Linked DNA regions of Homo sapiens: region 2 is linked to region 1. A link means that fine-mapping ties the variant in region 1 to the expression of a gene that starts in the linked region. Tissue or cell type: whole blood. Region 1 holds a variant in brackets; the other region holds the start of a gene. All regions are shown on one strand. Distances are between the middles of the regions.

Region 1 (5,210 bases):
GCCTCAGCCTCCCAAGTAGCTGAGATTACAGGTGTGTGCCACCACGCCCGGCTAATTTTTTTGTATTTTTAGTACAGATCCGGAGTTTCACCATGTTGGCCAGGCTGGTCTCAAACTTCTGACTTCAAGTGATCCATCCGCCTCCGCCTCCCAAATTTCTGGGACTACAGGCGTGAGCCACCTCTCCCGGCTCCTCCATCTTCTTCTGTCCCTTTAGTCCCGTTTTCTCCACCTCCCCAGCACTTTTCCACTTCCTTTACCTTCACTTGCTCTATTCCTTCATCTCCCTTTATTCCTTTGTCTATTTCTATTTGTTTTCTTTCAACAACTTCCTTTGTCTCCCACCCTTGGATTCAGTAACATCTTGTAAAATTCCTGTTTCATTCAGAAGCTCTCTGAGTCCCCTTCATACAATATTCATCATCTATTTCTCAATCCAATGACTCTCCCTCCCTTTTCTCCCTCTTGTCTCAGCACCACCACATATGCCTCACTCATAAGGGGCCGCCCACAGTGGAGGGCAGGGGAACTACTGGATGTCTCAGGCATCCAGCTGCATCCAGTGTCTTCCTTGTGCTGAACTTGTGCACCTGATAGCTATTCACCCATGCAGCAGTCAACACCAAGAGCTTTTTAAGTTAACTGTCATTAAGAATGGGTACTGCAGGGCACAAATAAATTGTGAGATCCAGATATAGGCTTTGGACTTAATAGTTGAATTGTGGAGGGAAAATATAGACAAGGAAAATCCATTAACACGATGATGTATTAAATGTCATGTGAAAAATAATTGGCAAAGAATCTTATTACAGAGTGGAAGAGAGGATATCTTTAGATTAAGAGAATTCACACAGGTGAGTAATTGCCATTGATTATTCCATACACTGTTTTAGGAACTTTATATCTATCATTCTACTTAAGTCCTCAGAAAATTCTACAAAGCAGGTATTTTTATTTCTACCTTACAAATTCCCGTGAAAACTGAGGCCCAGAAAGATTAAGTAAGTTACTCATGGTCAAATCACAATGAAATGAAAGACCTGAAATTTGACTTCAGATGTATCTGACTCCAAGTGTCTTCCCACCACTATATGAATCTTTGAAAGGCAGGTTGTATATACTTCTGGATGGCGTTAAGATTTCAGGAATGTATATTCCAGCACCCACTTGTAAACGATCCAGAGACAAGACAGCACCTAGTATAATGGTCTACACATAAGGATGCTCATCATATGGGCCTAAAACCTTGGTTCTGAGCCCCTGAGCCCTGAAAGGGAAAGTAGTGACTTCATGTATCTGTGTCTGTGGTTCATTTTCTTCAGGTGTATGGAGAAAACACCATGGAAACAGGGAACCTCACGTGGGTATCAGACTTTGTCTTCCTGGGGCTCTCGCAGACTCGGGAGCTCCAGCGTTTCCTGTTTCTAATGTTCCTGTTTGTCTACATCACCACTGTTATGGGAAACATCCTTATCATCATCACAGTGACCTCTGATTCCCAGCTCCACACACCCATGTACTTTCTGCTCCGAAACCTGGCTGTCCTAGACCTCTGTTTCTCTTCAGTCACTGCTCCCAAAATGCTAGTGGACCTCCTCTCTGAGAAGAAAACCATCTCTTACCAGGGCTGCATGGGTCAGATCTTCTTCTTCCACTTTTTGGGAGGTGCCATGGTCTTCTTCCTCTCAGTGATGGCCTTTGACCGCCTCATTGCCATCTCCCGGCCCCTCCGCTATGTCACCGTCATGAACACTCAGCTCTGGGTGGGGCTGGTGGTAGCCACCTGGGTGGGAGGCTTTGTCCACTCTATTGTCCAGCTGGCTCTGATGCTCCCACTGCCCTTCTGTGGCCCCAACATTTTGGATAACTTCTACTGTGATGTTCCCCAAGTACTGAGACTTGCCTGCACTGACACCTCACTGCTGGAGTTCCTCAAGATCTCCAACAGTGGGCTGCTGGATGTCGTCTGGTTCTTCCTCCTCCTGATGTCCTACTTATTCATCCTGGTGATGCTGAGGTCACATCCAGGGGAGGCAAGAAGGAAGGCAGCTTCCACCTGCACCACCCACATCATCGTGGTTTCCATGATCTTCGTTCCAAGCATTTACCTCTATGCCCGGCCCTTCACTCCATTCCCTATGGACAAGCTTGTGTCCATCGGCCACACAGTCATGACCCCCATGCTCAACCCCATGATCTATACCCTGAGGAACCAGGACATGCAGGCAGCAGTGAGAAGATTAGGGAGACACCGGCTGGTTTGAGAGTGACAATGGTAGGTTTCTTCTCTTTGGCTTTGTTTTCCCTTTGTGAAGTGGAGAGGGAGCTACTACCTTTGCTCTCTTCATAGTGTGTTGAGGTTCATCATAGCAGGGAATGAATTTTGAAACTAAGCAACTTCGTGTTTTAGGAAAAAAGAAAGTATCCTCTTTGGTGGTTAAGGTTTGTGATAAAGAGTTTTAACACACTCGCAACAATGAGAATTGTTCACATGGCCCCTGAAAAC[C/T]ACACCTTCCTTTTCACCTTCTTGGTGGACAGTTTCCTGTTGACAGCATTTCCCCTGTGCGAACATTTCTATTTTCCGTATTTTGAGCTCTCTTCCCAATATTTCCTTTTGGTGTGAGTCTGGGTTGTTGGGAACAGCACAGAATTTGGAGTCTTAAGCTCTAAATTAGAGGCCCTGACCCATCATTGACCAAACTGATGACTTCGAGTAAGCCACCCAGCTTTTCTTGGCCTCATGATTTCTCCCTCACCAATTTGCTTAAATTAGTATGTGCCCCTAAAATATTCTATGTTTGTTATGAGATTCAAATAAAAAAATTTTGTGATAAAACAACAAGTAAATCATATAACTATATGTTATCTTCCAAGCTTTTAAAAATGATTGTATTTTATTTTCAAATATGAAATTATTATGAGTATTCAAGCTTTTTCTCTCTATATTTACATTTTAATATAATATACAAATTTTGAATAAAAGATCATGGGCAATGCATGCACATTATGAAACTTATGTCATTATGTATAAATGCTCATGTATACACTACTCGATTCAAGAACCAGAAGTTACCAATAACTTGCCTTCACCTGTATTGTCCTCTCCATTGTGTTCACCTTGATTCCTATCCAGAAGAAATCACTCTGTTGAATTTCATGTTTATCACTTCATTGCTTGTATAAAATAGTTTCATCACTTTTTTTACATAAACAGTATATTGTTTTGCTACTTTGGAGTTTTATAAAGATATTGTACTGTACATAATATTCTGGGATTTGCTTTTTTCACTCCATGTTATGTTTCTAACATAACATGTTGATGTTTGGCTCTAATTCATTCATTTGCTCTGCTGTAGAATATTCCACTGTGAAAATAAGTTTATTTGGGTTGTTTCCAGGTTTTGGCTATTGGAGAGTGCTTTTTTTGAGACGAAGTTTCACTCTGCTGCCGAGGCCGGAGTTCACTCATCACCACACCCAGCTAAGTTTTGCATTTTCAGTAGAGATGGGGTTTCTCCATGTTGGAGTTGTGACCATTATTGCCTAAACTATTTTTACTGCGCCTTTCTCTCCTCTTCTTCCAGGATTCTCATTATGTGTGTGTCTTGGTATCCTTGATGGTGTCTCACAGGCTTCTGAGCCTATGTTCATTTTCGTTTATTCTTCTTTTTGCTCCTTAGACTGGATGATTTCAATTGACCTATAATATCTCTAGACCTCTGATTCCGAAATGCCATCATAGAGGAAAATTGGATTCACTCCCCGACTTCCACAGAACCAAAAACAAATATATAGCACTGAGATCTACACCAGAAACAACCCAGAGCTCAAGTATAAGAGTGAGACAGTTCTTGGGGCCACAGAGGGATGAAAAAAGTCCAAGCAGCTGATAGGAGAATCAGACTTCCACATCTGGGACACCCCTCATCCCCATTCTGTCCAGCACCAAGTGCCAAAAAATCTCCTCCCAACTACAGTTTCTACACTGGAAAAACTGAAATTGAGGTGGCCCACCAGCTTCCTTACCTTCTTGGGGTCCCTGGCAGGAGAACTGTTCTTGCCTTAATCCACAGATAGCATCATGACTGCCTGAAAGAAGAAATGTCCCCGAAGAAAGGCAGAGAAATTCTGCTCTGTAACTCAGCCAAAGGAGACACCAACTCAGAGTTGCTGTCCAGCAGCACCATGCTGTAGGAGGCATGTTCCCCAGGTCCCCTGGGCACAAACCCCTAGCCAGACTTCCCACACTGCCAGGATAATCTCTTTGGGATCTCCTTGATTTGAGACAGGAAGTGCTTCAACCATTTACTAGTCCTGAGGTGAACCTGGGCTTAAGGCACCACCTAGAGTCGAATAGAGGCAGTGACCTAGCAGTGAAGATTCAATAAGCAAATGTATTCAATAAAAACCAAAACAAGCTGTACAGAGAAAACTGGAAAGATGGATACATACCCACAAGAAACAACAGCAAACAGGGAACTATGACTTCCTCAAAAGGAAAAAGCAAAAATCCAGTCACTGATCCTAACAAGATGGTGATTAGTGAGCTCTCTGACCAAGAATTCAAAATAGGAGTTTCAAGGAAACTCACTGATCTCCAAGAAAACACAGAAAAGCAATTTAGAAATTTAACAAAGAGACTGAAATGATTCCAAAATGTCAAACAGAAATCTTGGAACTCAACTAACCTATCTTCAGATTCATTGATTTTATTTTTATTTTTTAAGACAGTCTCACTCTGTTGCCCAGACTGGAGTGCAATGGTGTGATCTTGGCTCACTGCAACCTCCGCCTTCCAGTTTCAAGCAATTCTCCTGCCTCAGCCTCCTGAGTAGCTGGGGCTACAGGCGCGTGTCACCACACCCAGCTAATTTTTGTATATTTAGTAGAGACAGGGTTTTACCATGTTGGCCAGGCTGGTCTTGAACTCCTGACCTCGTGATCAACCCGCCTCGGCCTCCCAAGGTGCTGGAATTACAGGTGTAAGCCACCAGGCCCAGCTGATTCTTTCTTCTACCTACTCGAAAGCTCCTATTGAAACCGTCCTGTGAACTTTTCATTTCAGTTACTTTTATTGTACTTTTCAGCTCCAGACTATTTCTTATTTTAAATCAATTTCTCTCTCTTTTTTGATATTTTCTATGTAAAACATTCTTCTTCCTTTAATTCTTTACCCATAGTTTACTCTATGTTCAAGAAAGTTGCTTTAA
Region 2 (5,132 bases), 22 kb before region 1:
AAAAAACAACACAATCCAATTATATGCTGCTTACAAGAGACTTATTTTGGCTCCAAAGACAAAAATAGGTTTAAAATAAAAGGATGGAAAGAGATATTCTGTGCAAATAGTAGCCAAAAGAAAACTGGAGCGGGATCAATAAGAAAATACGGGACTTGAAAAATATTATAAACTGACTAGACTTAAAAGAGATTTACAGAACACCCAAAGACAACAGAATGTACATCATTCTCAAGTGCACATGAAACAATCTTCAGGATTGACTATACGTTAGGCCATAAAAAATTTTCAATAAATATTCAAAGATTTAAATTATACAAAGTATCTTCTCTGACTACAATGGAATGAAGGAATCTACAACAAAGGAAAAACTTGAAATTTTGCAAATATGTGGAGGTTAAACAACATACTCTCCAACAACAAATGGGCCAAAGAATAAATCAGCAGTGAAATCAGAAAATACTTTGAAGTGAATGCAAACAAAAGCACAACATACGCAGGGTGCAGTGAAAGCAATACTTAGAATTTTATAGCTGTAAAATCCTACATAAAAAAGGAAAAACGTCTCAAATCAATTATCTAACTTTACACTTTAAGGAACTAAAAAAAGAAGAGCAAACTAAAACCAAAGCCAACAGAAGGAAAAAAACAATACAGATTAGAGCAGAGATAAATGAAGTAGAGAATAGAAAAACAATAGATACAATCAATGTAACCAAAGTTAGTTCTTGAAAAGATAAACAAAATTTATAAATGTTTAGCTAAACTAAGAAAAAAAGAGAAGAGGCAAATAAATAAAATCAGAAACATTACTACCAACCTTACAAAAATTAATAGGATTGTAAGAGAGTACTATGAGCACTATATGCCAACAAATTGGCTAATTTAGATTAAATGGAAAAATTCCTGGAAACACAAATTACCAAAACTGATTTCAAAAGAAATAGAAAGTCTCAACAGACCTATAACAAGTAAATGTTGAATCAGTGTTTAAAAAACCTCCCAACCAAGAAAAGTCCAGTACCAGATGGCTTTAGTGGTAAATTCTGCCAAACATTTAAAGGAGTATGAACACCAATACTATGCAAGTTCTTGTAAAAAAAAAAAAAAAAAACAGAAGCAAAGGGAACACTTTTTAACACATTCTATGAGGCCAGCATTATCTTGATACCAAAGCCAGACAAAGATACAAGAAAAGAACTACAGACCATATTCTTTATAAATACAAATGCGAAAATTATGAGATGCCACTTCACTCTCACTATTCTAAGTAAGATGGTTATTCCTCAAAAGATTAGGCACAGTTGCTATAAAATCCAGCAATTCCACATCTAGCTATATACCAAAGAAAAATGAAAGAATACATCCACACAAAATCCTATACATGAATATTCCTAGCAGCTTTATTCATAATAGCTAAAAAGTGGAAAGAACTCAAATGTCCGAGAGCTGACTGACTGATTTACAAAAGTGGTATATCCATATGATGTAATATTATCCAGTCATAAAAAGGAATGACTGGTACATGACTAGTACTGGTACATGCTACAGTACAGATGAAACTTAAAAACATAAGTGAAAGAAGCAGGACACAAAAGCCATATATCATCATATGTGTGTTATATGATTCAATTTTTAGGAAATGTCCAGAACAGGCAAATCCAGAGACAAAAAGTAGATTAGTGGTTTCCAGAGACTGAGGAGAGAACAGAATGGGCAGTGACTGCTAAAGGATATGAGATTTCTTTTCAGAACGAAGAAAATGTTCTGGAATTAGGTAGTGGTGATGGTTACACAAGTTTGTGAATATACTAAAAACCACTGAATGGTTAAAATCATTTAATAATTGTGAAGCTTATGGTAGTTGAATTATATCTTGAGGATGAACTTAGCCAATTTACATTGAGAGTTCACTTTGGCTGAGAGAAGAGCAGATCAGAGATTGGGATAAGAGATGGTACCTTAATGACTGTACATATGAAAAAGGCTTTGGAGTTTATAGAGGGGGTGACCTGGACTGTGTCCTAGGACATAACTCACTTTTCCAACTACAGTGGTGATAGGAGAGGGTGGAGGCCTTGCACTGCCCATGGTGCTGAGGGATTTGGTTCTTGTAAACCTCCCTGGGAATTCACGTCTCTTTAGGGTTCTTATCCTTCTTCATCTTGGTCCTTTGATCAGTAACTCTGAAATGTTGGCCCCAAGACAGTCTCCCAATAATTATGTGCATCTGATGCAACATCTCACATACTTTTTAATAACTCCCATTGCTCATTTGCCCTTAGCAGCCTGAGCCAGGCTTTATCTTATGAATTAAGCCTAAGTTTTACTCCCCAAGGAATTTCCCTTTCCTTAAGGCCAATCCCATATGTGTTCCTTGTCTGAGAGAGGCCAGGAGAAGAATGGAGCTACAGGAGAAGAGTGACCTGGGAGATGGGAGGCTCTAAGTCCTCTTGGCCACTGTGGGCTGGAGGAAGGTGATGGCCTCATTGTCCTTCCCATGGACAAATCAGCACGACAAAGCCTATCGTGAGACAAGCATGGGGTGGAGGGAAGGCATGGGGGAAGTCATCAGGCATTAATGCAAGGGGAACGGGATTTGGGAAACATTGATTTTATCTAACATTAAGACTTTTGTCTGTATTGGCTTATGTGCTGGGTGGAATTTAGAACAGAGGGTGGGAGGGAGAGCGGAATATAGACATACACTGTTATCTCCCCCGCCTCCCACATACATACTACAGCTTCTTCCCACACCTAGGAGAAAACACAAACAGGTCTTGCTCTGACACTTTCCACCCTCTACTGTTCCTTTTTAAGTCTCATCTTCCTCCATCTTCCCCCTTCTCCTGCCTGCTTCTCTCACTCACTCCAGATTTTCTTCCCTTCTTTATTGCTGTCCCTCCATCTTATCCTCTCTTTTCTTAAATCTTGTGTTTAACAATACCTGTTAATGCTCCCTGGATGACAACAGACTAGATTCTACCCCATTTTGGGAACCCACTTATTCCTTCTCCCCTCGTCTCTCCTAGTCCTGTGTGGGCTGATTTTCTAAGAGCAAAGACAGATGGGAGAGAAGATTGAGTAACAACAGAAGAGGTCTAGAATCCTCCCCTTTCCCCATACAGATCCATGTCCCTCCCTATGTCTATTTTCTTTCTTGTCTAGAATCCCTCTAAATCTATTTTCTATGCATGTAGGGGGAGGAAGCATTTGCAAAGATTCTGATGGGTTTGTGGAAAGAATCGGGCCATGCTAAGATGATGCTTCTAGGATTGTAAATCTGGTGATGCTGGGAATTAGGATTCTTGGATTCTCTTTGAGGTCCTATAAACTGCATTCTATCCAGTGGCTACTCTCTCTTTCTTCCCAGCTCTCACGGCAGTCTGGCCCATCCCAGCACCCTGTCCTCCATTAAGCAATCACACATTCTTTTGGGAACCAACTATGAGAAAGGGTCTGTGTGTACCACGTACTGTGTAATACTTAACATATTGGATTTGCACTGAAATTACAACACATGTGAGGAACAGAGCCATCCTCATGAAAAAATACCAAGGCATAGCAACATTATGGAAGAGCTAATTACTCTTGAACCTTGAAGGAAGGGTAGAATTCAGACAGGTGAACAGGACAGAAAAGCAATTCAGATGCGGCACTGACTGGATGAAGGCACTGAGACCTGAGGGACCGAAGAAGAGATAAGTTTGGCTGAAGCTGAATCTTCTTAGAGGAGAGCAGGTAAGAGGAGAATAGTCATTAGGAGTGCAAATTCTGGGTCAATCAGACCTGGCTCAGAATCCCAGCTCTGCTTCTTCTTCTCCATGTGATCTGGGAGAAATTAGTTAACCTATTCAAGCCACAGTTTACTTATCTGTAAAGTGGAGATAATTTATGGTACTTACTATACTTATAAACATGGGAATAATATGTGAGAATTAAAAAAGATAATGCCAGCAAAATATTTAGTATAGTGTCTATCACATAGTAAGCATTCAAAAAATGTTTACTACGATGACAATTACTGCTATTACAACAATAAATGCTTACTACCACAGTTATTACCATTACTACAATTACAATAAATGCTTACTACTACTACTATTAAGTGGCAGATGGACCTGGAAAGAAAGGTAGGAGCCTGTTTGTGTGGAAGCCCCTGAAATCCTAACTAAGTACAAATTCCTTCCTGTAGACAATAAAGAGCCATGGAAAATTTTTGAAAACCTTTTGAAATAGAGGGGGAAGATGTTGTTGAAGAAGTTTATGTATGTACTATGTTGCACAGTGTGGATTAAAATGGACCAAAACCTGGAGGCAAGAACCCACTTGGAGGCCCACAGCAATAAGCCAGATAGGAAAAATAATTTGGCAGTAATTTCAAAGGAAGAACGAATATGCCTTGGTGATAATACATGTGGAGTTCAAGGGAGAAGTCTAGCTGGGTGAGGGGATAACAGACAGAAATAGGAGAGCCAGAGAGGTATTTGGGTTTAGAGTAAAGAAGTAGCAAGAATGATTTCATAATAATGACAGGCAGCTCACAGTGCCAGATGGAGCTGAAAGAACCCACGGTTACTGACGGGCTTTAGCCATTACAGTGACACTCAAACTGAAGAACTGGTTATGAGGAGGGGAGGAATCCAGCGGTTCTGCAACAGTCCTGGGAATCACGGTCTCCTTCTCTCCTCTCTTTTACAGAAGAGCTTTCCCTTTTCCCACACTGCGTCTCCTCCTCTTTTTCTCTCTCTCCCTTTTCCTCAGTGTTCTGAGGTTTCTCCTTCCCCGAACCCTTCCCCTTGCACACCTGCGGTTGTCTTTCGCCCCGACAGTGCTCATGCTAAGAAGTTTTTCAGCTCTTACCTTTTCTTTTTCTTGGTCTCATTATAATACTTCTTTTGCTTTTTTTGATTAAAATTTTATGACAATTTATAAATTACAAGAAATAAAAAAAATTTTGTAAAGAAGAGAAAATATATGTTCCATCAATCCCATCAACCAGAGATAACCACTATTCACACTGGTAACATTTTGGTTTTCCATGTCCATTTTTTCCCTTTATATTTATACTATAGTTTATCAAAATATTTTGTAATTCTCTCTTTAAAACAACAATACTTTGAGTCTTAAAA

Evidence for each region. PIP is the estimated chance that this variant, and not a neighbour inherited with it, causes the effect.
Region 2: it holds the start of OR4D1, and the variant in region 1 is the best candidate, but not a certain one, in a credible set for the expression of OR4D1 in whole blood (TOPMed, PIP 0.81).

Annotation. Positions count from the first base shown.
Region 1 is chr17:58,168,316-58,173,525 of GRCh38, forward strand. It overlaps OR4D2 (olfactory receptor family 4 subfamily D member 2), which reads left to right. Exons shown (of 2, transcript NM_001004707.4): 2 at 1,323-2,801. The coding sequence starts at 1,341. The coding sequence ends at 2,264. Among named protein-coding and RNA genes, the nearest start is that of OR4D2, 3.9 kb to the left of the region's middle. The variant C/T (reference allele first, on the strand shown) is at 2,507.
Region 2 is chr17:58,146,056-58,151,187 of GRCh38, forward strand. It overlaps OR4D1 (olfactory receptor family 4 subfamily D member 1), which reads left to right and starts at 2,329. Exons shown (of 4, transcript NM_001386095.1): 1 at 2,329-2,529; 2 at 3,374-3,741.